4 linked regions of the Homo sapiens genome follow. The protein of the gene in region 1 interacts with the protein of each later gene in a biochemical or structural test. Each region holds a gene or a part of one and is shown in the gene's direction. Other genes may lie near its edges.

The links.
Region 2: the proteins of ESR1 (region 1) and MED1 form a complex in vitro, tested with the Homo sapiens proteins (6 studies listed by BioGRID).
Region 3: the proteins of ESR1 (region 1) and AHR form a complex in vitro, tested with the Homo sapiens proteins (4 studies listed by BioGRID, with this or other methods).
Region 4: the proteins of ESR1 (region 1) and SMARCE1 form a complex in vitro, tested with the Homo sapiens proteins (3 studies listed by BioGRID).

Annotation. Positions count from the first base shown.
Region 1 is NC_000006.12:152,097,675-152,103,798, forward strand, and holds the end of ESR1 (estrogen receptor), read left to right. Parts: intron 1-1,057; coding exon 1,058-1,292; 3' UTR 1,293-5,600; downstream 5,601-6,124.
Region 2 is NC_000017.11:39,413,240-39,420,270, reverse strand, and holds part of MED1 (mediator of RNA polymerase II transcription subunit 1), read left to right. Parts: intron 1-352; coding exon 353-554; intron 555-4,931; coding exon 4,932-5,027; intron 5,028-5,139; coding exon 5,140-5,245; intron 5,246-7,031. UniProt on the Homo sapiens protein: Component of the Mediator complex, a coactivator involved in the regulated transcription of nearly all RNA polymerase II-dependent genes.
Region 3 is NC_000007.14:17,293,987-17,301,666, forward strand, and holds the start of AHR (aryl hydrocarbon receptor), read left to right. Parts: upstream 1-4,665; 5' UTR 4,666-5,278; coding exon 5,279-5,343; intron 5,344-7,680. UniProt on the Homo sapiens protein: Ligand-activated transcription factor that enables cells to adapt to changing conditions by sensing compounds from the environment, diet, microbiome and cellular metabolism, and which plays important roles in development, immunity and cancer.
Region 4 is NC_000017.11:40,624,431-40,630,818, reverse strand, and holds the end of SMARCE1 (SWI/SNF-related matrix-associated actin-dependent regulator of chromatin subfamily E member 1), read left to right. Parts: coding exon 1-105; intron 106-1,825; coding exon 1,826-2,034; 3' UTR 2,035-5,857; downstream 5,858-6,388. UniProt on the Homo sapiens protein: Involved in transcriptional activation and repression of select genes by chromatin remodeling (alteration of DNA-nucleosome topology).

The DNA of each region.
Region 1 (6,124 bases):
CAGAGGAGGAGAGTAGGGAAAGGAGAATGCCATTTGCCTACATTTCCCTCTGCCCATTTCCCGCTGCCCATTTCCCCCCTTGTTTTCCTGAACGTGAACTGAGCTCTGGGCACTGTTTTAGGCCTAGCAGGGGACAGGATAAAGCCTGCTTCTCTAGGAATTCGCACTGAGGGTGTGAGTGTGTGCACGTGTGTGTTTGGAGGCGGGAGAATAAACACAAATAAATAAAAAGGAGAATTTCAGGCAGTGATAAGAGTGCTGAGAAAAACAGAACGGTGTGAAAGAGGAAGGCTGAGCCTGCAGAGGCTTGAGGCTGCTGCCACTGGGTAGCGGTAGGCCTTTCCGAGGAGGCGGCATTTGAAGACCGGAGGAAGGTTCATCCCAGCAAGTAGGAACAGCAAGTGTAGGTCCCCTAAGTCTTGGGGGAGCTTAGTTCCTTTAAGGGCAGCACAAAAATCAGTGTGGCTCCGGAGAGCACATTAGGGGAGAGAGGCAGGAAGAGCTTGGAGACATGGATGGAAGCTGGACCAGTTGGGCCTTGTTGAACATGGAAAGGCATTTAGATCGTATTCTGAGTTAAATGGGAAGTGACGTGAGAGATTTAACAATGGAGCGTCTTGAACTGCTTTACTCATTTAAAATACCCACTCCTGCTTGGCTGAATATCTCATGTTGTCTTTTTAGAAGCTTTGGCGATCCTATTTGAATGCATTTAGGTCCTATTGGAGGGGAATAGGATCTCATTTGAGGCCACGGAGGTCCATGGAAGTCACCTGCATAGCAAATACCCTGAAAGTGGCTGCAGGGAGAGTGTGAGGGTGGGACCGCCCTGGTAGGAGGTGGAAAATGAAAAACACACGGCCATGAGTTCCAGATTAGGGCTTCTGAAAGCCCTCAGCTTTCCCAGCTCCCATCCTAAAGTGGGTCTTTAAACAGGAAGAAAGAAAGATTGCTAAGTGTCTTTGGAGTTCCTCTTCCTTCCCCTTCTAGGGATTTCAGCACTCCTGGGGCTCGGGTTGGCTCTAAAGTAGTCCTTTCTGTGTCTTCCCACCTACAGTAACAAAGGCATGGAGCATCTGTACAGCATGAAGTGCAAGAACGTGGTGCCCCTCTATGACCTGCTGCTGGAGATGCTGGACGCCCACCGCCTACATGCGCCCACTAGCCGTGGAGGGGCATCCGTGGAGGAGACGGACCAAAGCCACTTGGCCACTGCGGGCTCTACTTCATCGCATTCCTTGCAAAAGTATTACATCACGGGGGAGGCAGAGGGTTTCCCTGCCACGGTCTGAGAGCTCCCTGGCTCCCACACGGTTCAGATAATCCCTGCTGCATTTTACCCTCATCATGCACCACTTTAGCCAAATTCTGTCTCCTGCATACACTCCGGCATGCATCCAACACCAATGGCTTTCTAGATGAGTGGCCATTCATTTGCTTGCTCAGTTCTTAGTGGCACATCTTCTGTCTTCTGTTGGGAACAGCCAAAGGGATTCCAAGGCTAAATCTTTGTAACAGCTCTCTTTCCCCCTTGCTATGTTACTAAGCGTGAGGATTCCCGTAGCTCTTCACAGCTGAACTCAGTCTATGGGTTGGGGCTCAGATAACTCTGTGCATTTAAGCTACTTGTAGAGACCCAGGCCTGGAGAGTAGACATTTTGCCTCTGATAAGCACTTTTTAAATGGCTCTAAGAATAAGCCACAGCAAAGAATTTAAAGTGGCTCCTTTAATTGGTGACTTGGAGAAAGCTAGGTCAAGGGTTTATTATAGCACCCTCTTGTATTCCTATGGCAATGCATCCTTTTATGAAAGTGGTACACCTTAAAGCTTTTATATGACTGTAGCAGAGTATCTGGTGATTGTCAATTCATTCCCCCTATAGGAATACAAGGGGCACACAGGGAAGGCAGATCCCCTAGTTGGCAAGACTATTTTAACTTGATACACTGCAGATTCAGATGTGCTGAAAGCTCTGCCTCTGGCTTTCCGGTCATGGGTTCCAGTTAATTCATGCCTCCCATGGACCTATGGAGAGCAGCAAGTTGATCTTAGTTAAGTCTCCCTATATGAGGGATAAGTTCCTGATTTTTGTTTTTATTTTTGTGTTACAAAAGAAAGCCCTCCCTCCCTGAACTTGCAGTAAGGTCAGCTTCAGGACCTGTTCCAGTGGGCACTGTACTTGGATCTTCCCGGCGTGTGTGTGCCTTACACAGGGGTGAACTGTTCACTGTGGTGATGCATGATGAGGGTAAATGGTAGTTGAAAGGAGCAGGGGCCCTGGTGTTGCATTTAGCCCTGGGGCATGGAGCTGAACAGTACTTGTGCAGGATTGTTGTGGCTACTAGAGAACAAGAGGGAAAGTAGGGCAGAAACTGGATACAGTTCTGAGGCACAGCCAGACTTGCTCAGGGTGGCCCTGCCACAGGCTGCAGCTACCTAGGAACATTCCTTGCAGACCCCGCATTGCCCTTTGGGGGTGCCCTGGGATCCCTGGGGTAGTCCAGCTCTTCTTCATTTCCCAGCGTGGCCCTGGTTGGAAGAAGCAGCTGTCACAGCTGCTGTAGACAGCTGTGTTCCTACAATTGGCCCAGCACCCTGGGGCACGGGAGAAGGGTGGGGACCGTTGCTGTCACTACTCAGGCTGACTGGGGCCTGGTCAGATTACGTATGCCCTTGGTGGTTTAGAGATAATCCAAAATCAGGGTTTGGTTTGGGGAAGAAAATCCTCCCCCTTCCTCCCCCGCCCCGTTCCCTACCGCCTCCACTCCTGCCAGCTCATTTCCTTCAATTTCCTTTGACCTATAGGCTAAAAAAGAAAGGCTCATTCCAGCCACAGGGCAGCCTTCCCTGGGCCTTTGCTTCTCTAGCACAATTATGGGTTACTTCCTTTTTCTTAACAAAAAAGAATGTTTGATTTCCTCTGGGTGACCTTATTGTCTGTAATTGAAACCCTATTGAGAGGTGATGTCTGTGTTAGCCAATGACCCAGGTGAGCTGCTCGGGCTTCTCTTGGTATGTCTTGTTTGGAAAAGTGGATTTCATTCATTTCTGATTGTCCAGTTAAGTGATCACCAAAGGACTGAGAATCTGGGAGGGCAAAAAAAAAAAAAAAGTTTTTATGTGCACTTAAATTTGGGGACAATTTTATGTATCTGTGTTAAGGATATGTTTAAGAACATAATTCTTTTGTTGCTGTTTGTTTAAGAAGCACCTTAGTTTGTTTAAGAAGCACCTTATATAGTATAATATATATTTTTTTGAAATTACATTGCTTGTTTATCAGACAATTGAATGTAGTAATTCTGTTCTGGATTTAATTTGACTGGGTTAACATGCAAAAACCAAGGAAAAATATTTAGTTTTTTTTTTTTTTTTTGTATACTTTTCAAGCTACCTTGTCATGTATACAGTCATTTATGCCTAAAGCCTGGTGATTATTCATTTAAATGAAGATCACATTTCATATCAACTTTTGTATCCACAGTAGACAAAATAGCACTAATCCAGATGCCTATTGTTGGATACTGAATGACAGACAATCTTATGTAGCAAAGATTATGCCTGAAAAGGAAAATTATTCAGGGCAGCTAATTTTGCTTTTACCAAAATATCAGTAGTAATATTTTTGGACAGTAGCTAATGGGTCAGTGGGTTCTTTTTAATGTTTATACTTAGATTTTCTTTTAAAAAAATTAAAATAAAACAAAAAAAAATTTCTAGGACTAGACGATGTAATACCAGCTAAAGCCAAACAATTATACAGTGGAAGGTTTTACATTATTCATCCAATGTGTTTCTATTCATGTTAAGATACTACTACATTTGAAGTGGGCAGAGAACATCAGATGATTGAAATGTTCGCCCAGGGGTCTCCAGCAACTTTGGAAATCTCTTTGTATTTTTACTTGAAGTGCCACTAATGGACAGCAGATATTTTCTGGCTGATGTTGGTATTGGGTGTAGGAACATGATTTAAAAAAAAACTCTTGCCTCTGCTTTCCCCCACTCTGAGGCAAGTTAAAATGTAAAAGATGTGATTTATCTGGGGGGCTCAGGTATGGTGGGGAAGTGGATTCAGGAATCTGGGGAATGGCAAATATATTAAGAAGAGTATTGAAAGTATTTGGAGGAAAATGGTTAATTCTGGGTGTGCACCAGGGTTCAGTAGAGTCCACTTCTGCCCTGGAGACCACAAATCAACTAGCTCCATTTACAGCCATTTCTAAAATGGCAGCTTCAGTTCTAGAGAAGAAAGAACAACATCAGCAGTAAAGTCCATGGAATAGCTAGTGGTCTGTGTTTCTTTTCGCCATTGCCTAGCTTGCCGTAATGATTCTATAATGCCATCATGCAGCAATTATGAGAGGCTAGGTCATCCAAAGAGAAGACCCTATCAATGTAGGTTGCAAAATCTAACCCCTAAGGAAGTGCAGTCTTTGATTTGATTTCCCTAGTAACCTTGCAGATATGTTTAACCAAGCCATAGCCCATGCCTTTTGAGGGCTGAACAAATAAGGGACTTACTGATAATTTACTTTTGATCACATTAAGGTGTTCTCACCTTGAAATCTTATACACTGAAATGGCCATTGATTTAGGCCACTGGCTTAGAGTACTCCTTCCCCTGCATGACACTGATTACAAATACTTTCCTATTCATACTTTCCAATTATGAGATGGACTGTGGGTACTGGGAGTGATCACTAACACCATAGTAATGTCTAATATTCACAGGCAGATCTGCTTGGGGAAGCTAGTTATGTGAAAGGCAAATAGAGTCATACAGTAGCTCAAAAGGCAACCATAATTCTCTTTGGTGCAGGTCTTGGGAGCGTGATCTAGATTACACTGCACCATTCCCAAGTTAATCCCCTGAAAACTTACTCTCAACTGGAGCAAATGAACTTTGGTCCCAAATATCCATCTTTTCAGTAGCGTTAATTATGCTCTGTTTCCAACTGCATTTCCTTTCCAATTGAATTAAAGTGTGGCCTCGTTTTTAGTCATTTAAAATTGTTTTCTAAGTAATTGCTGCCTCTATTATGGCACTTCAATTTTGCACTGTCTTTTGAGATTCAAGAAAAATTTCTATTCTTTTTTTTGCATCCAATTGTGCCTGAACTTTTAAAATATGTAAATGCTGCCATGTTCCAAACCCATCGTCAGTGTGTGTGTTTAGAGCTGTGCACCCTAGAAACAACATATTGTCCCATGAGCAGGTGCCTGAGACACAGACCCCTTTGCATTCACAGAGAGGTCATTGGTTATAGAGACTTGAATTAATAAGTGACATTATGCCAGTTTCTGTTCTCTCACAGGTGATAAACAATGCTTTTTGTGCACTACATACTCTTCAGTGTAGAGCTCTTGTTTTATGGGAAAAGGCTCAAATGCCAAATTGTGTTTGATGGATTAATATGCCCTTTTGCCGATGCATACTATTACTGATGTGACTCGGTTTTGTCGCAGCTTTGCTTTGTTTAATGAAACACACTTGTAAACCTCTTTTGCACTTTGAAAAAGAATCCAGCGGGATGCTCGAGCACCTGTAAACAATTTTCTCAACCTATTTGATGTTCAAATAAAGAATTAAACTAAAGACAACGAGTTTGTTTTTTGTAAGCTCCACTTCTTGCTAGCAGTTCACCACTGATCCTCTAAAATCAAAGTGGTTAAACGATCTGTCACACACAGTGAGTCTGAATGCTAAAGCCTCTCCTCACCTCACTCCCTCTGCCCAACACCCCCAGGTGTATCAGGAAGTGTGTGGACACTGTGGTCAGGCAGAACTGGCCTCAATTCTTGGCTTCACCACTTACAAATTTTATGATCATTGGCAGTTGATTTTTCAGAGTTTCGGCTTCCTTATCAACAATATGATGATAAGTAATAACACCTAATTCACACGATGGTGGTGAGGACTAACTGAGGTGCTCATTAAACATAGTTGCTGTTTTTTAATGCCTGGCCCAAATCCTTCCCTGTGAGGGAGAAGAAGGATGCTTGAGAGTGGTTATTTATGAATGAATGAGTGAATGGAAGAATGAGTGATCTGAAATGATATAATTAGCTTAAAAACCTCTCCCTCATTCTGAAGGTAAAGCAGGAACAATTGGTCCACCC
Region 2 (7,031 bases), on another chromosome or scaffold:
CCGAGATCGCACCACTGCACTCCAGCCTGGGCAACAGAGGGAGACTCTGTCTCAAAAAAAAAAAAAAAAAAAAGAGATTTTGCATTTATGGTTTAGGAACCTCTTTAATACAGATTTCTGAGGTAGTTTTTATGTTAGCTAGGTTAGGAAATCACTAGCATAGTGCATTTACTAAAAAGACATCTTTTCAGCCTAATTAGTAATTGATTGACATTTATAATATCAGCTGATGAAAACATTCACTGTGGAGACTTTTCTGCACTTTTTTGAGTAGTAGGTTTTTTCAGGATACTTTGTGGTTGGAATACAATAGGTAACTAAATAGCACTCGTTAACTGTTCTTTTTGCCCAGGCTCTTCCTGGTCAGCAGCACTGCTATTTCCTCAACAAGGATGCTCCTCTTCCAGATGGCCGAAGTCTACAGGGAACCCTTGTTAGCAAAATCACCTTTCAGCACCCTGGCCGAGTTCCTCTTATCCTAAATCTGATCAGACACCAAGTGGCCTATAACACCCTCATTGGAAGCTGTGTCAAAAGAACTATTCTGAAAGAAGGTACTGCCTTTCCTTTGATATGCTTACTGGAAGATGGAAACTTACTTCTCCAGTGGTTCTTTAATTGGTGGCCCATCAGAATCACCTGTAGAACTTAAAAAAAGTTTTTTTTTTTTCATATTTGGCATAAAAATCAAGCAAATTAGCTGCACGTGGTGGTGCACGACTGTAGTCCCACCTACTTGGGAGGCTGAGGAAGGAGAATCGCTTGAACCCGGGAGGCGGGGGTTGCAGTGAGCTTAGATCATGCCATTGCACTCCAGCCTGGGTGACAGAGCAAGACTCTGTCTCAAAAAAAAAAAAAAATTCAAACATGTGGAGCTTTTAACACTACAGATGATGGCCAGGTGTGGTGGCTCACGCCTGTAATCCCAGCACTTTGGGAGGCCAAGGTGGGCAAATCACTTGAGCCCATGATTTGAGATCGGTCTGAGGAACATGGCAAAACCCCATCTCTAGAAAAAAGTAGCCAGTTGTGGTGGTGTGCGCCTGTGGTCCCAGCTACTCGGGATCCTGAGGCAGGAGGATTGTCGCTTGAGCCTGGGAGGCAGAGATTGCAGTGAGCTCAGATTGCACCACTGCACTCCAACCTGGGTAACACAGTAAGACCCTGAATCAAAAACAAAACACCAGGCTGAGTGCAGTGGTTTGTGCCTGTAATCCCAGCACTTTGGGAGGCCGAGGTGGGCAGATCACAAGGTCAAGAGATTGAGACCATCCTGGCCAACTAGTGAAACCCAGTCTCTACTAAAAATACAAAAATTAGCTGGGTGTGGTGGTATACACCTGTAGTCCCAGCTACTTGGGAGTCTTAGGCAGGAGAATCACTTGAACCCAGGAGGCGGAGGTTGCACTGAGCTTAGATCATGCCACTGTACTCCAGTGTGGGTGACAGAATGAGACTCCCTCTCAAAAAAAAAAAAAAAATCACAGATGCTGTGTTTCCACACGAAGATGAACTGAATGATAATCTCAGTGGGAAGAGTTGGGAATCTAAACTCCACAAATCATTTTGATGGAACCAGTCTGTAGACTAGCATTTGGAGACCACTGCTTTTTGCAATGTTCTTAACTCTTTTTCTGAACATAGTAATGTAACTGGGTATTTTAGGGGCTGTACCCTGTAGCAGATATACATAAGGTAGAACTTGGAATGCTGTAGTGAGAGAGGCTTTTTTTTTTTTGAGACAGGGTCTCACTCTGTTGCCCAGACTGAACCACAGTGGCATGATAACAGCTTTCTGCTGCCTCTACCTCCTTGGCTCAAGCGATCCTCCTGCCTTAGCCTCCCAAGTAGGTGGGGCTATAGGCATGTACCACCAAGCCTGGCTAATTTTTTCTGTAGAGACAGGGTCTCTCTATGTTGCCCATGTTCGTCTGTAACTCCTGGGCTGAAGCGATCCTCTTGACTAGGCCTCCCAAGGTGCTGGGATAATAGGTGCCACCGTGCTTGGCCAGTTTTAGGTTAAATTTTAGGTTGTTAGGAGAGTGCTTCCCAGGTTTAGTTCTGAGTATGTTTTCTCTCCCCATTGTTTGGAGAACTTAATCTTACAGCTTTAAGAAGGTTTAGCTCTTTTTTCTCTCAGGATTCTGGAATGCTGATGAATTTTTTTTTTTTTTTTTTTTTTTTTGAGACGGAGTCTCACTCTGTTCCCCAGGCTGGAGTGCAGTGGCATGATCTTGGCCCACTGCAACCTCCGCCTCCCAGGTTCAAGCGATTCTCCTGCGTCAGCCTCTGGCTAATTGTTTAAATTTTTTTTAGTAGAGATGGGGTTTCACCATCATGGCCAGGCTGGTCTCGAACTCCTGACCTCGTGATCCACCCTCCTAGGCCTCCCAAAGTGCTGGGATTACAGGCGTGAGCCATGGCACCCGGCGTAAATGCTGATGATTTTCAAAGACAGTTGGCTATTAGAAGCTTTGCTGTAAATTTTGGCTGTTCTAGCTAACCATAGTTAATTTTAAAAATCTTAAGTCAGAAGCGCTCTGTTGATAGATATGTGTCAGTGCCAGTGATAGACAATAAGAAATAGGGAAGGCAAATCAGATCTCTTTTATTTTTATTTATTTATTTTTTGTTTGTTTTTTGAGACGGAGTCTCGCTCTGTCGCCCAGGCTGGAGTGCAGTGGCGCAATTTCGGCTCACTGCAAGCTCTGCCTCCTGAGTTCACGTCATTCTCCTGCCTCAGCCTCCCGAGTAGCTGGGACTACAGGCACCCGCCATCACGCCCGGCTAATTTTTTTGTATTTTTAGTAGAAACGGGGTGTCACCGTGTTGGCCAGGATGGTCTCGATCTCCTGACCTCGTGATCTGCCCGCCTGAGCCTCCCAGAGTGCTGGGATTACAGGCATGAGCCACCACGCCTGGCCTTTTTGTTTTTTTTTTTGAGACGGAGTCTTGCTTGGTCACCCAGGCTGGAGTGCAGTGGTGTGATCTTCACTCACTGCAACCTTTGCCTCCTGGGTTCAAGCAATTCTCTTGCTTCAGCCTCCCAAGTAGCTCGGATTACAAGTATCCACCACCATGCCAGGCTAATCTTTGTAGTTTTACCAGAGACGGGGTTTCGTCGAGTTGGCCAGGCTGGTTTTGAACTCGTGACCTCAGTGGTCTGCCTGCCTCGGCCTCCCAAAGTGCTGGGATTACATGCGTGAGCCACCATGCCTGGACTTTTTTTTCTTGATACAGGGTCTTGCTCTGTTATCGAGATTGGAAAGCAGTGGTACAGTCATAGTTCACTTTGGCCTCAAACTCCTGGGCTCAAGTGATACTCTTCCCTCAGGCTCCTCAAGTCGCTGGACTATAGGCATGCACCTCTACATCTAGTCAAATTTTAAAGAAATTTATATTATACTTTTTATTTCAGTGTACATATTTATACAGCAACATTTTTTTTGTAGAGATGGTGTCTTGCCATGTTGTATAGGATAGTCTTGAGCTCCTGGCCTCAGGCATTCCTCCCACCTCAGTGTCCCAAAGTGTTGGGATTACAGGCATGAGCCACTGTGCTGGGCCAGGAGATTCTTCTCATGGAAATAAAAATTGCTTTAGAAATGAGAAATTTTTAGTAGTTGGAGTAATAACATAGAGCATATATGTTCAAAGTTGTGGCACTTCTGTTTCATGTGTTAAAATGCCTTAAGAAGTCTCCAGATAGCTTTAGGGCATTTAAAAATGAGTTTTCATAAGGCAGTTATGGAGCTAATCCTATAGAGAGGCATGCTTTTTACAAAGAAAGTATATGATCCTTGTGTCTAGGCTGCTAGCACATCTGGCATAAGAACATATGATGATGGCTAGATATATGTGGAATAAATACATTATTTTAGATTATAGCCTCTATATCTCTGCTTGCCAAACTATGGGCTGCACATCTAACAGCTGCAAACACTTGATAGAAAGCAGAGTTTATGGCAGTGGTTCTGGATATCTGCTTATCAAGTAGAATGAGACACTCGGCCACTTTTATTTTCAGAATTCACTTTTACATTTTAGGGATTAAGTTTCTTCATCTTGGAAAATTGAAAGTCTAGCTACTTTTGTTCTGGAGAAATTTATAACAAACTGGCAGGTTCCTTGGAATCTGATTCCTTCTGTCATCTGTGGATGACATATAGTAGGTTTTGTATGTGAAAAAAGTGTGCGATTTAGTTTCCAAGGAGGGAGAGAGAATTTCAGTCTGTACATTTAAGGAATGTTATTTGTGTGAAGTCTTTTTTTTTTTTTTTTGAGACAGAGTGTTGCTCTGTTTCCCAGGCTGGGGTTCAGTGACATGATCTCGGCTCACTGCAACCCTTGCCTCCCAGGTTGAAACGATTCTCCTGTCTCAGCCCTCTGAGTAGCTAGGATTACAGGTGTGCGCCACCACACCCGGCTAATTTTTTTTTTTTTTTTTTTTTTTTTTGAGATGGAGTCTTACTCTTGCCCAGGCTGGAGTGCAGTGGCACGATCTCAGCTCACTACAACCTCCGCCTCCTAGGTTCAAGTGATTCTCCTGCCTCAGCCTCCCGAGTAGCTGGGATTACAGGCATGTGCCACCACGCCCGACTAATTTTGTATTTTGTATTTTTAGTAGAGATGGGGTTTGTCCATGTTGGTCAGGCTTGTCTCGAACTCCTGACCTCAGGTGATGAGCCCACCTCAGCCTCTCAAAGTTCTGGGATTACAGGCCTGAGCCACTGCATCCGGCCTCTTTTTTTTATTTTTTAGTGGAGTTGGGGTTTCGCCATGTTGGCCAGGCTGGTCTTGAACTCCTGACCTCAGGTAATCCACCTGCCTTGGCCTCCCAAACTGCTGGGATTACAGGCGTGAGCCACCGTGCCCAGCCTGTGTGAAGTCTTATATTTGGTTGTTTTATGATCTTTCTCTTTGCCTTTTAGATTCTCCTGGGCTTCTCCAATTTGAAGTGTGTCCTCTCTCAGAGTCTCGTTTCAGCGTATCTTTTCAGCACCCTGTGAATGACTCCCTGGTGTGTGGTGAGTTGTGTGGGTGGCTAACACCTCTCATGGAGCGGTTTGGTCCCTATGTCTTTTTTGGAAAAGTCAGAAGCTAAATCTAAAACAATTTCCTATGTATTTTGTCTTTCAGTGGTAATGGATGTGCAGGACTCAACACATGTGAGCTGTAAACTCTACAAAGGGCTGTCGGATGCACTGATCTGCACAGATGACTTCATTGCCAAAGTTGTTCAAAGGTAGCCTTGGCCCTTTTTCATCTGAGTCCCATTTAGAGATGTATAAAGAATGTTGTTGAGTAGGGCGCGGTGGCTCACGCCTGTAATCCCCACACTTTGGGAGGCCGAGGCAGGCGGATCACGAGGTCAGAAGATTGAGACCATTCTGGCTAACATGGTGAACCCCCATCTCTACTAAAAATACAAAAATTAGTCAGGCGCGATGGCGGGCACATGTAGTACCAGCTACTCGGGAGGCTGATGCAGAAGAATAACTTGAACCTGGGAGGTGGAGGTTGCAGTGAGCCAAGATTGCGCCATTGCACTCCAGCCTGACGACAGAGCAAGACTCCGTGTTTTTGTTTTTGTTGTAAAAAAAAAAAAAAAAAAAAAAAAAAAAAAAAAAAAAAAAGGCCGGGCCTGGTGGCTCACGCCTGTAATCCCAGCACTTTGGGAGGTGAAGGCGGGTGGATCACGAGGTCAGGAGATTGAGACCATCCTGGCTAACACAGTGAAACCCCGTCTCTATTAAAAATACAAAAAATTAGCCCGGCATGGTGGCGGGCGCCTGTAGTCCCAGCTACTAGGGAGGCTGAGGCAGGAGAATGGCATGATCCCGGGAGGTGGAGCTTGCAGTGAGCCGAGATCATGCCACTGTACTCCAGCCTGGGCAACAGAGTGAGACTCTGTCTCAAAAAAAAAAAAAAATGTTGTTTTCAGAATTAGCATGAATTTCAAATAAAGGAGCAATTTAGTTATTGCTTTGATTTCACCCTTCTCTGCTTTCGGATTCAAAGTAATCTAAGCTTTGTTTTTTTTTTTTGAGATGGAGTCTTGCTCTGATGCCCAGATTGTACAGTGGTACAATCTTGGCTCACTGCAACCTCTGCCTCCCGGGTTCAAGTGATTCTCCTGCCTCACCCTCCTGAGTAGCTAGGATTACAGGCATGTGCTACCACACCTGACTCATTTTTGTATTTTTAGTAGAGACGGGGTTTCACCATGTTGGCCAGGCTGGTCTCGAACTCCTGACCTCAGGTGATCTGCCTGCCTTGGCCTCCCAAAGTTCTGGGATTACAGGCGTGAGCCACTGCACACAGCCAGCTTTGTTTTTTTTTTTTTTTTTTTTTTTTTAATGATATTACTATGAGAGTAATGGGAAGTAAAGTAGGTAACTTCAGGCCTGGAATTATGGTACTTTAAGGCAGGAGAAAGCCATAATAAAATACAGATATTTTTCTTACCTATCCTGTGTGCCAATTCTTCATAGATGTGACATTTTTATCTTTTTATTCTTTTATTTTTTTATTTTGAGACAAGAGTCTCACTCTGTTACCCAGGCTGGAGTGCAGTGGTGTGATGACGGCTCACTGAAGTGTTGACCTCCGAGGTTCAGGTTATCCTTCCACCTAGACCTCCTGAGTAGCTGGTACTGCAGGTGTGAGCCACTGTGTCTGCCTGAGCAGATTTCACAACTTAAATGTTAGGCTGGGCGTGGCAGTGCATGCCTGTAATCCAGCACTTTGGGAGGCCAAGGCGGGCAGATTACTTGAGGTCAGGAGTTCGAGACCAGCCTGGCCAACATGTTGAGATGTCATCTCTATAAAAATACGAAAATTAACCGAGCATGGTGGTATCCGTCTGTCATTCTAGCTACTTGAGAGGCTGAGGCAGGAGAATCACTTGAACCTGGGAATCGGAGGTTGCGGTGAGCCAAGATTGCGCCACTGTTCTTTAGCCTGGGTGATAGAGTGAGATTCTGTCTCAAAACAAACAAACTAACTAAATAAATAAAAATATAAAAATT
Region 3 (7,680 bases), on another chromosome or scaffold:
TATATATATATATGTGTGTATATATATATATATATATATACATATATATATATGAATGTTGCAGCATGCATTTCCTGAGAATAAGGATCTTCTCTTTATTCTAGAGGTATATACCTCTACAGGTGATAGAGGTATATAACCACAATACCTCTATCACCTGTAAAATCCCGATTCCAGGACACAACATAGATAAATTAAATAAAAATTTTTGTAGTGGAGCCAAGGATCCGTAATTTTTACAGTTCTCAAGTGACTACAATATGCAACAAATGTTGAGAACCACTGTCCACACATTAATTAAATTTGTTAAATATTTTCAGTAAAGAATACATTTTGTTTCTTAATATGAATAAGAATGATAGCCTTTTAAAGTTTAGCAAATCTAAATTATATATTTTAGGTCAGCATTTTACAATAATTTACATTTCCTTAAGCTGTTCTTATCAAGTTAATAATTTTCTTTGTTAAATAAATGTATTTTATCTTAATTTCAGTTTCTTCTATATCATGATTTAAAATGCAGAAAGTATGTATTATGTAGTTTTCAAATATATTTATCTCCAAAGTTAAATGGATTTTAGTAAAAATGATATTTATACATATATATTTTAATAAAATGTTTAATAAATTAGACATGAATCTTAGCATGTGAAACATAAAACTTTTTTATAACTTTCCCCATAATCAAACTTCAAATTCGTAAGAATTAAAAGTCCGGAAAGAAAGAAATCGAAATCCAAACTTACTGCATGTTAACATTTTAATAATGTACTTTCATGTGTTAAAAACCTAAATGTTTCTTGCAACAAAGCATTATCCATAAGTGAATAAAAATAATTTTGACTAATAACAAATTATTCCTATCTTGTAGTTTCTTTGTCAGAATTAAGATTAGCATTATCTATTAATTACTTCTCTGTGGCTTCTATGACATTGTTGTATCCAAGCAAGTAAAGAAGACATTAAGCATTTAGAAACAGCCCTTAGATGTCTATGTCTGTTCTTCAGTGTTAGGAGTAAAAGCAAGCAATGTGTAAACTGATTATTTTTAATAAATGAATCAGAACAGTTCAAAGTCAGATAAGTTATACATTTTAGACTGGGGCAGAAGTCACAAGACCCAGATTCTAGGCTATGATTAGCAGGGCACTTGATCTCTCTGGGCCTGAAGTTTCTCACCTGTTAAATGAAGGATTTAGTTATGCCAAAGGTCCCAAACTTTCTCAGTTCACAGCATTCCTAGTGTCTCAGTAATTTTTTCATGGTGTTGCAAGCTAAAAGAAACACCTAACAGTTCCATTTATTAAACAGTTAAACCCAAACTTATGTTTGTCTATCCTAACAACTTAGTAGCTATTTAAAAAATAATATACATTAACATTTTTTATTCTTAATGGGATGTGCACATCTGTTGGGCACTTCATAACTTCTCAAACTTAGGAATAAACTTGGAAACCGCTACCCTCATTCCTGTTCTACAGTAATTTTCCCATAGTCCTTGTGTTTTATTACAGCAATTTACAAAAACACAGCCTCACAAAGATACGATGTCAAAAGGAATGAAGTACAATTTAATGTGTAGAAGTTCTGAACTACCTCAAGATAGTGGTTTGCACGGTGTCCAACTGATGTCACTGTGTTGGCCTTGAAAATTTAAAATATCCCATGATAGTGCCCCTGTGAGTTTGTTGTGGTGCTCCTGGGGTGCCTCAGTACATAGTTTAGGAAGCATGGACTACCCTCTGTAAAATACTTCATATAGCTACAATGTGTGTTGTAAACTGTAAAAGACAATTCTGAGGGCCTGAAGTAAGGAGCTGCAGAATTGAAGAGGAGATTAAAAAGTGATACATGTTCAGTCTGCATGAAATTCCCCTTCCTCCCCAGGTCACCTATAAAATGCCTACCTATGCCTACCTATAAAATGCCTACCTATGCCTCAAAACTCAGCTCAAGCTCCCTCAGGGAGGTTACCAAGTTACCCTTACCAAGTTAAATCCACCTATTATACATTCTCACAGTATTCATTTCACAGTACTTGTCCCAGTTGTAATTATACATTCATTTGTGTAACTATCTGGTTAATTCTTGTCTCTCTCATTAGAATGTAAGCTCTAAGAGGAAAGAACATGTCTGATATCACTACTGTAACCCACAGTGTCTGGTATATTATAGGGGCTAAAATCTTGCTTAGTGAAATGAACTGTGATAGAATAGGTTTAGCATTCATTTTGATTATTTTCCTTTATTCAAGAACAGCTGATATTTATAATAGCATTCCTAAAACATTTTTCTCATACTATTTCGCAGGAGAAAGAAACCCATACACATACAGCTGCATCTGAAACCTCAGAAACTAAGCTCAACCCAATTGATTAAAAGGATGTTCTTTGGATAAGGTAATCAAATGTTCACCGACTCTTATAGCCAAATTAATTATTATGAGATAAAAATCACGTAACTACAAAAAAAAAAACTGCTCACAAAAAAGTTTTTAAATCTTAGCAGATGGACACAAACCATACTTTGAGAACCATGTTCCACAGTGCCAATACAGGAAGTTTCTAGATAATGGCAGCTCATTTTTTAAAAATGGCACTACACTATACTGTATTCACATGCCAGCAAAACTGTTAAGGTAAGTTCATGTCACTATTAAAATAAAATGAATTCTGGGAATTTTGTTGATATTCAATTTTAATCTTAATTATGCAAAGATCTGTTACTTAACTAAGACTATGTAACATAATATAGCATATGACTTCTGGATAATGAAAATAATCCTAAACTTAACCATAAAAAAATAAGGGTATGAAAGTCAAAATAAGGTAGAAAATGACTGCACCAAATAGCCAACAACCTTAAAAAGGGTAGGATTTTTTTAAATCACTAAATTAAGATTGGTTCATTGCATTTAGTACATCTCTTTTATGAAGAGGAGTTATAAGCTACAGAATCAATAAATTATGTTTTGATATAAATTTTTCACCCTTAAAGTTCCTAGCTAGGAGGAAATTATTCTTTTACACTTACACGTTTTAGATAGAATGGCTATAAGTAAGCACAGATAAATGAAGAAATGAAAGAGAAGGGAAAAATAGAGATGGTTGATTCTGCCTCTGCAATTGCTAATTCATAAACATCAAACTTTCCCAGTGTACACTGTCTTCTTTGGGAATTTGCTCCATCTTTTTCCTTAAACTGAAAGGTGGCTTACTGAGGCTATCACTTTCCTAAAGGTCTCCCCAATACTGCCTAATTATTTTCTCTTATCACAGGATACAGGGTGGATGTCCATCTACTTCCTTGTTGTCACTTCCCAGATCACTTTCACTTTATGCTCTTCTAAAATTAAAACAAAGATCATCGACCACAAAACACAATTGTTCTTTTGTAGCTCATGCTAGAATACCCTCTTTGTTACATCTCCTTCATTTTTCTGATCCAAAATTTAGTAGCCTACTATATCTCACCCACTGTCCTTCTTTCCTCCAGCTATGGTAGAGAACTGCTCCTCCAACTTTATGTACATTTGAATCACCTGGGAGTTCCTGTGAACTTCGGGTTCTGATTTAATAAGGACACCCAAAGAGTCTGCATTTCCTGTAACTCTCAAAAGAAGCTGTGGAGTACTCTGAATAGCAAAGCACTGTAAGTGCTGTTTCTGTTAGTATCTAATCTATTAGTCCTAATCTCCCATTTATGCTTTGGCACTCATTCCCTCCTGCTTTCGGTATCTTAATATCTATCATTCCTTCACTCTTCCCTCAGGTTCCCTACATAGTTTATCTCTACCCCCTCTAAGCCGCTCAGTATCGCCCATTAAAGAACTAAACCAAAACTAGAAAACCCTCATTTAACCCTTCACTCCCCCTACATACAATCTGATGTGTCTCTCATCCACAGCTAAACTTGGAAGAAAAATTGCCTGCTTGAGGATGCCATTTTGTTATCTTCAGCTCAATCCTGTACCCACTTCAATGTTATTTGCAGGCCCATTACCCCAACACTGCATTCACGAAAGTCATCAGTGACTACACATTGAGAAAACAAGAATGACATTTTCAGTTCTCAACTAATTTGAATTTCTCAACAGTATTCAATATTGTTAATTACTCCCAATATTTTTCCACATGGTCCTCCATGACACAATACATAATAGTCCCCTTATTATCTATATTCCTGTCTATTGTAAAGACTTCCCCCGCACACCAAAAAAGGTCAAGGAAACTCCTAGCCTTCAAGTCTCAACTCAAATCTGGCCTTCTGAAGCCTTCCCAACTAGGAAAATATACAGTCCCATTGGTTGTCTACCAGTTGTCTACCAGTTAATTGTAATTCTTAGCCACAAGTTAGCTGACCCACCGTCTCTCAAACAGGTGAAGTTAAGCTCAATATTTGGCATATCTTGATATACTTTGTACAGTCTAGCTACAATAAGTTTGCCTATGCACGAAGATGGCTACCGGCGGGGGGGGGCGTCCTTACGTCCTACGTCATCACGTGCCGGGATGAGGGTGGGGCCCTCAAGGAAGACGGAATGGAATCCAGATGGGCGGGGGCAAGCAGGACGGGGCGGGGCTACGCGGGATCTGGGCGGGGCGGGGCCGGTGAGGGGTCGGGGGTGCTCCTGCTATTCAGCCGGTGCGCGCGGCGGCGGGAGGCAGTGGCTGGGGAGTCCCGTCGACGCTCTGTTCCGAGAGCGTGCCCCGGACCGCCAGCTCAGAACAGGGGCAGCCGTGTAGCCGAACGGAAGCTGGGAGCAGCCGGGACTGGTGGCCCGCGCCCGAGCTCCGCAGGCGGGAAGCACCCTGGATTTAGGAAGTCCCGGGAGCAGCGCGGCGGCACCTCCCTCACCCAAGGGGCCGCGGCGACGGTCACGGGGCGCGGCGCCACCGTGAGCGACCCAGGCCAGGATTCTAAATAGACGGCCCAGGCTCCTCCTCCGCCCGGGCCGCCTCACCTGCGGGCATTGCCGCGCCGCCTCCGCCGGTGTAGACGGCACCTGCGCCGCCTTGCTCGCGGGTCTCCGCCCCTCGCCCACCCTCACTGCGCCAGGCCCAGGCAGCTCACCTGTACTGGCGCGGGCTGCGGAAGCCTGCGTGAGCCGAGGCGTTGAGGCGCGGCGCCCACGCCACTGTCCCGAGAGGACGCAGGTGGAGCGGGCGCGGCTTCGCGGAACCCGGCGCCGGCCGCCGCAGTGGTCCCAGCCTACACCGGGTTCCGGGGACCCGGCCGCCAGTGCCCGGGGAGTAGCCGCCGCCGTCGGCTGGGCACCATGAACAGCAGCAGCGCCAACATCACCTACGCCAGTCGCAAGCGGCGGAAGCCGGTGCAGAAAACGTGAGTGTCCCGAGCGCGTCCTCATCGCGGGGGCTGGGCGCTCAGGCACGCGGGTGCGGGAGGCAGCCCCACCCCGCCCCCAAATCCCTGCGATCCTGGGATTAGGTCCATTCCCGGCACTGCCCGTGGAATCGAGGTTTGGAGGCCGGCTGGGAGACAGAGGACTTGGATTCTCCCGTTTTCAATGATTGCATTTTAAAAATTGTCCTCCCACCCATCCTCTTCCCCCGCACCAGTGCATACACACCCTCTCACATTTGCAACTTTGTTCTTTCTGATTTGGTCCTGATTTGTTGACAGCTCTGATCTGCCTTGGGCTAATGGATTAGTTAGTATAAACCTGTCTTGAAATCTCCTTCCACTTTTCATATCCGCATGGGTTAGGTTAGAGGACGGTCTTAATTCTCATTCTTCGTAGAGTTTGGTAAGGCGAGATGTTTTAAAGAGCTAAACACATGCTGACTTTTACGAAGGGGCTGAGTGCCTCTAAAGGTACTTTTTGGTCCCCACCAACTGGCTTTGTGTTGCGCTCATATTTACTTATTTGGCAGCAATTTTGTAGCGCTCATCGTGACCATATCGGTAAAGTGGATAGAAGTGGTAGCAGGTGGGAGTGGATGCAACGGACAGGATACGGTGGAGGATTTGTATTCTTCAGACATCTTTTTCGGAAGCTTGCTTATCACTTTTGGGGTGGCTTTAGGGTCTGTAAAATAAAAGATTTAGAACTGCATTTGAGAGAGGTTTTCATTCTTAACATCTACCTCTAATTCTTTTCCCCTTCAAAGTTTTCTTCTAGTTGAGTGAGTACAAACTTGCTTTTGTCGTTGTCGGTTGATTTTGGTGGAATATTTGTGTGAGATGGCCAATTTTTTGTGTGTGTCAGAAAAAACTATCCGTGCTCAAAACATTTCCTGTTGTGAGGTGGTTGTATTCATGTGTTTATTCCAATTTTTTTATTTCTAGATCTCTGAGTTACTTTACCTACATGTGTTTCAAGTTTTCGTAAACAATTTTAAGAACTCTTAAACGTCTTCTCAGACCAAATCAGAAGTGTGCATTTTGCTTAGACTCCAACTATCACTAATGGGAACCAGAAAAATAACACTTTAAGATTTACATTTAAAACCAGTTATTGGTTTAAAGTTTCATTCTAAAATTTTAGTTTCCTTTCAGAATTTCAGTTATCATAGTTCTTCAGAAGTATACTTATGAATTGGCATTAACAGAGGATAATAATCTATAAATAGACTGATGAAAATTTGGAAGTTTTATGGTACAGTGTGTCTTAAGGGAATATTGTCAAACCAGCAGTTTTCTACCTTGGCAGTTTGAGACATCGGTTATTAATACTTTTAATTTTGTAGAATGGTTTCTTATATTAAAGTATGTTTGTCTTATTTGACATTGTCATTGATGGTTAAAGTTGGGAGGCATCCCAAATGTCTGTTCTATGTGTTTATTAATATAATAATACACTTAGCATCATATATAATAGGGGTGTCATGGGTTTTATGTGTATGGTGAGAAAACATGAAGATCTCCCTGATGTGTTTTTAAGATACTGGGTTTCAGTTAGGGTGTTATCAAAGGACCTGGATGGCTTTGTAAACAAAAACAAATGCCATAATTTTGTATTCATTACACAGTTTAACATTTATGGATTTTGGTTATTTTGCGTAAAATGTACTTTTTATTAGATTATCCTAATATTATACTTACTTAGTTTTTAATATACTTGTATTAATTTCTTATAATATAACAAAAGTATTTTTTCCATTCACCCACATTTTGTTAGCATAGATGTTTATCAGATCTCTGCTGAGCACCGTATATTGCTTCTAATCATACAGATGCCTTAAATATTACCAGCTTGCTCTGTAAGAATAGGCTAGTGCTGGCATTTTCATTATCAAGTGAAAGTGTTTATATAAATTATTTTTACCTGAATGAAAAATTGTTAACTTTATAATGCAGTTAATCAAAGTTTATTTTAGAAATGAAGTCATTAAACCTAGTATTAAATTTGAGTTTTAAAATTAAACTACCAGTTTGTGGCCTAATGAGCCCCAAAACATGCCAACATTGGGGAAAATAGATCTTGTTTTGAGCTGAAAATGCTATCCAGACCTACTTAACTTTGACCTCTTAAATGAGAGCCATTTTATTTTATTTACAGATAAAATATGCTGTAGCATTATTATAGGACTGTTTAAAAAGACAGCCAATTAAATATAAATTTTATGGAATATAAGTATTCCATAAAATTTTGGAGTAAAGTAGGTGACAATTGTAACCTGAAGCTCTTTCAATCTTGAGTTGAATTTATTAAGAAAA
Region 4 (6,388 bases), on another chromosome or scaffold:
CAGAGCAAGCTGAGCGCAGTCAGAGCAGCATCGTTCCTGAGGAAGAACAAGCAGCTAACAAAGGCGAGGAGAAGAAAGACGACGAGAACATTCCGATGGAGACAGGTAACCCACTAGCAACAAACGCAGAGGCAGTGCCAAGACTTTGTACGGCTGTCTTTAATTTAGGTTTTTCTTTCTAAGTGCAAGTATTCTGGTACCTGCCACTGAGGGTGATTCCCAGTACTAAATTTGACATGATATTGACATTCAGTATTTTAACCTTTAAATGCTTACATTATTTATCAAGATGTGGTTATTACCGTTAAGATTAATTGTCTTTGGTGTCCTAGGACAGCATTCTGCAAAGTAATACCTGTAAGCCAATCCTGCCCACCACTTGTTTTTGTAAATAAAACTGGAACACAGCCACACTTGTTTGTTTACATACTGTCTGTGGCTGCTTTGGGGATAAAACAGTATAGTTGAGTAGTTGCAACAACAACTGCCTGGCCTGCGAAGTCTAAAATATTTTCTATCTGGCTCTTTACAGAAAAAAATTGCCAGCTCTGTCCTAGAAAAACCCTTACTTCTAGGTATACTGATTTTCCTGATTAAAAGCATCCCTCAAGGTAAAAAATAATAATAATAACTTGTATAAATAAAACTTACATAAAGTACTGATTACATTGATCGTCACTTGTAATTTTGAGATCACCTTACCTCATGGCACTGTTTTAACACTGCCTAGTACACTGTGTAAACAGGACTAAGCTAAAAGTAGTTATGGAAAACAAAACCAAAGGCTTCCTGGAGCATCGTTGCAAGAAGTGGGAGGGACAGTAGTCATACTTGGTACTCAGATGACAACCATCTGGAAAACATGTAATGGAATATAGATATCTTTACCAGGTATTTCTGCAAAATTTAATCCAGCAGATTAACATTTGAAATGGTCATATTTTAAGTTTCAGTATCTGAGTCTCTTTCTGTTTTGTATGAATGTGTTTTTTATTGTAATGAATTTGGAGCATGAGCACATTTTTGTGGTTAAAACGAGCTTGAAAATTAAAATAACTGATTTTTGCTAATTTTGCAACTAGACAAACACTCAGTCCTTTGCCTCTGTTTTGGCATCTATGAATGGGGCATGTCTTATGCTTAAGGTTTGCAGGTCTTTACTCAGATTCTGTCCTAGTTCAAGGAAAAAACCTGAAGAAAATCGTTTGAGACTATTAGAGCTAAAACCTCATGCTTTTAATTTCTTACAGGAAACAGCCCAGCATGACTTTAAACAAAGTGTCTAAAAGACCAACCTTATATTATTTCTACAACTGCTTTCTCCTCGTTTAATCCATAGCACTACAGACTAACTCTCATTCACTGTCCAACAGAAATAAAATGCAAGTCACGTGAAATTTTATATTTTCTACTAGTGACATATTTTTAAAAGTTAAGCAAAACAAGTGTTTTAACAATATGTTTTATTTAATTCAACATATCCTAAATAAAATTATTTCAACACAGAAGGAACATTTTTAAAATCAGCTTTCCTTTTTTTAAACAGTCTTTATACACATCTCAATTCAGAAGCTAAATTTTCATCGGAAGTATTTGATCTGCATTTATTTAATAAATTTCATTCATTTACAGCTAAAAAGTAGATTTTCATACCCAAATTGTTCCAACATTCTTAAAAGTTCTTTAGTCACACTGGTTCATTTCAGGGGTTTAATAACCACATGTGGCTAGTGGCTTCTATATTGGACAGCACAGCTGTATACTGTCAGCATAACTAGAGTAAAATTTCATCTTGGAACTGACAGTGACAAATGTGTGATTACAGAGGAGACACACCTTGAAGAAACAACAGAGAGCCAACAGAATGGTGAAGAAGGCACGTCTACTCCTGAGGACAAGGAGAGTGGGCAGGAGGGGGTCGACAGTATGGCAGAGGAAGGAACCAGTGATAGTAACACTGGCTCGGAGAGCAACAGTGCAACAGTGGAGGAGCCACCAACAGATCCCATACCAGAAGATGAGAAAAAAGAATAAGTGTTGCCTTGTTTTGTGTGTTCTAAATACTTTTTTTAATGAAAAAATGTTTTTTGGTTTTAATGGTGTTACGTGGTTTGTGTATTAATTTTTTTTCTTGTCCATATCACACCACCAAAGGCTTTTGGACCATTTAGCATCATGAGCCTAATGGCTCAGTCAGTCACCTTTCTTAAGTGTTGTGAAGATGGCTCTTTTCTTTGGATCTTGTTTCTAGCCCTCAACTGCTGAAAGCCTCAGAATTTAGATTAATTGAGAAAACACCCACCTCTTTTAGAGAATTATCCTTTGATGCTGCAGAATCTACTCTTACAATGCCTTCCTACAGCTCACTGGGGTGCTTACCAAAGCCATAGCTTTAAACCTTCCCAGTCCCCATCAGTAGCTTCCTGAAAGTCTCCTCTCTTGTTTACTTCTGCAAAGGGTAGCTTCTTAAAAACGTGATCATGTATGAGTATGTATTTGTTCACTTACCCTTTTTTACTTTTAATCAATGTCAGATACCAAGAGTTGTGTTAAGCTGAGTGTAGTGTGTAACTAACTACACTTGGATCTTACTGATCCAGAAATAGTCCCCATAGTTAGAGTAGTTACTTATGAAGTGGTTATTAAAGTGAACACAGCACATATACATTATCTATACTGCTTTTTGTTATGATTAATACTGGGTATGTTCTGGTAAATCCATCCTTATTGTATAGAAAAAAAATTACTTTTTTACCAGGTTTTCCAAAGACAGAATAGATCACAAAGCTCAAGGAATTTAATATTCTTGTAATGGACTAGATAATTCAAACTGATTAGCCCATTCCAGAAGAAAAACAGCTGGGAATTAAGTTAATCCACTTGAAATTGTTTTACAATAATCAGAACATCCAAACCTCAAGGCTCAGGATCCCATAGACCAGAGCCCACCTTTTTGATAAACTTAGTAAAGTCTTGGAGACTAGAAGCAAGATAGTTTGTGACACATAAGCTTCCCAAAAACTAGAATAGATTTTTACTGAATAGTGGTATATCTGATGGTATATGTTTCTTAAAGGTCCAAATGTAATAAAAAAAAAAATGAAAAAAAGGTCTCAGTGTTTTTAATGCACTACATATTTGTATGCAAGACAAGCATCCAGTTTTTTTCTGTAATGCAGTGACAGTGTGGAATGACCACTCAGCCATTATAAATTTGTGTACTCAGGGCCCTTGTCTCACCCAACTATCTCTATAAACTGCTGCAGTAGCTTATTTGTACAAGACACTTGTGAAAATCAGTTTTCTTACATTATAGTCATTGTCACATATGGAAGTTGGTCTTTGATTCCAAAAGTAAAGGGAATATGTTTCTACATTAACAGGAATATGGAGAAATCTGTAACGTTTGAATTATCTTTGAAAGAATGGCTAAATGATAAATGTTAAGTCCTGTGCCTATATGGAGAGGACTCTGTACCAGCATGAGTTAATTTAAGTGGATTCACTGCTATTCAGTTCATAGCACATTAGTGACTAGGAATGTGTGTTCAGCCTCCTGAGAGAGGAGGGGAGGAAGCTTGATACTGGGTGGAAACAACTCTTGACATCTGTTTCCTTGTGTGTCAAAGAACGAATTTGTATCAAATAGATCTGTTTTGAGCTTTGGCCATTATTTGGCTAAGAACTTCAGCCATCTCATCTCAGACAAATTGGACAGCCTCTTTGATACATTTTCTAGTAGTCAAAATGGGGCAGATGTAGTTTAATATGGGTGGAAAACTGCCCCAGCAAGATACCAGGTTATTTACTGTGGTATCGAAAGCTCTAAGAGAATGGAAGTGGTTCTTTTGCCCGGCTGGAAATAGCAGTGGGAAGACAAGTCTATCCAGACCAAGCCTGTCCATACAACACTGGCAATCAGTTGATGAGGGAATTAAGTCAGATGGGAGACGTCTCAATCTGTCGCCCAGGTTGGAGTGCAGTGGTGGCGATCTCAGCTCACTGCAACCTCCACCTCCCAGGTTCAAGCAATTCTCTCTGCCTCAGCCTCTAGAGCAGCTGGGATTACAGGCTCTCGCCACCATGCCCGGTTAATTTTTGTATTTTTTAGTAGAGATGGGGTTTCACCATGTTAGCCAGGCTGATCTTGAACTCGTGACCTCAGGTGATCCGCCTGCCTCAGTCTCCCAAAGTGCTGGGATTACAGGCGTGAGCCACTGTGCCCGGCCTCAGTTGGGATTTGACAGCTCTGAACCTCAGCAGGGGAAGATTGATGTAAAAATCCACTTGGTCAGAGTGATATATGTAGACTTGATGTTTGAGATGGTTCTCAGTTTAGAGAATGTGGGATATGGTAGAGGTCTTTGTTTTTTTCCCATGTCCCAAAAGGTGCTGGGCAAGTAGCTTGAACTCGAGCCTGTTTTAATTATAAAATAGATCAAACTGCTCTTTCTTGGTGCCCTTACTGCTCCTTGATTTTTAGTGCATTTATTTTGAGTATGAATGCATAAAGTCTGAGGGCCTAAATTTTGTTAATTTTTTTTAACAAATGGGAGAGGGGAATCCTCGATAGTCACCCAATTTTCCTTTTTTTTTGAGACAGTCTGACTGTTGCCCAGGCTGGAGTGTAATGGCGCCATCTCGGCTCACTGCAACATCCAGCTCCTGGGTTTCAGCAATTCTCCTGCCTCAGCCTCCTGAGTAGCTGGGATTACAGGCGCCCGCCACCACGCCCGGCTAATTTTTGTATTTTTAGTAGAGACAGGATTTTGCCATGTTTGCCAGCCTGGTCTCGAACTCTTGACCTCCTGATCCACCCTCCTCTGCCTCCCAAAGTGCTGGGATTACAGGCGTGAGCCACCGCGCCCAGCCCCATAGTCCCCCAATTTTCTAACAGTTTTAAATTCTGTAACTTCTCCTGTCTGTAAACAAGGCTGTCTTTTCAAATGGCTCTCCTACAGGATGTGATAATTATCTATTCTATAAAGCCGAGGTTTGGAGAGGTAAATAGCTATTTCACATTAACACAATAATGTCAATGCCCTATGGAAAAGATAAAATACTTGGACTATATTTTAAAGGGGAATCTGGGGTCATGCATATTGAAGTTTAACTAGATCCCTCCAGATTTTTGGTTTTGATCCTACACATTTAGATACTAGTTTTGGATTTTAGACAGTTGGTGCTGACAGTGTGAAACTCCTATTGCCTGCAGTTAAATTGAAGCTTTGGTTTCTCGTGAACAGGCAGTGAAGCTGGTATTATACTTTAAGTCCTCATTTCAGAAATAGTTTCCCTCCACCCCCAAGCACTACCACACATGGTCTCCCCACCTGGTTTCAGCTAGTGCATTAGTTTTATCTTGTTTTTTACCGCTGGGCAAACCTTGCTGGAACAACAACTGACTTCATGATTTGCACATTTGGAGGGCTTAACGTCTTTGCAAATGAAAAATCCACTGTACAATAACAAGCTCAAAGGAACTCGGAGCCTTTTTAGAAGAAATCGTGCTGAATTATAATGTGGCTTACTGCAATAATGTTTCTTTGATCAGGATGGAAAGGAAAATACTGAGTTTAGCAGAAAACGATGTCTAAATGTATTTGTAATGATACAATTGTTTATAAATGTTTTACTATTAGGTTGAACCATAAGAAATTGCCAGTGTACAATTTCATCTACAAAATGACTGGCTTAACCTAAATTCTGCATTTTATACTCCAAGAATAAGCTCTTCGTGGCAGCTTTCTAAGTGTGAAATGATGGAACTTTCTATTTGCCAGAATGACCTACACTTCTCTAATAGTTTATCTCATATTGTTAGCCAAACGCTGATTAAAATGCAAATTTCAAACTATTGAGTTTTTAAGAGCCTGATGTTTAAAATACATTTTGGTGAACTTTTAGTTAAACTAGCTCATTTATGTTCACACATTTTCTCATTTAGCACCAGAAAGTTTCTTACAGCTCTTTTGCATGCATTCAGGAGTCAAAAGTATTATATGGGGAGGGGAAATTCCCAAATGATAAATACTCTTTACATAAAACTGAGACAGTAGCTGCAGATAATGGCTCCCTTTGAGGAGCCACTTGAAAGAAAGGAAAGGCTGCCTTAAACTCCTTGACTTTAAGGGGCAGCAAGGACCCTCGGTCAGCCACCTCCACACCCGTCTAGCACTTGGTCCCAGGTCCCCTAAGGTCGTCATGGTTCTGTTTAAATAAATACTTCTAGTCTTGGGGAGCCCATCATGTCTTAAGATAGCTCATTCCTTCTTTAGTTCACTAAAGGTATTTCCTCTCACTGAACTAAAAATCTGTCTTCCTATAATTTCAGCCTCCCTCTTACACAACTTGAAGTCAATTAGAGTACATGTCATCACCTTCCAAG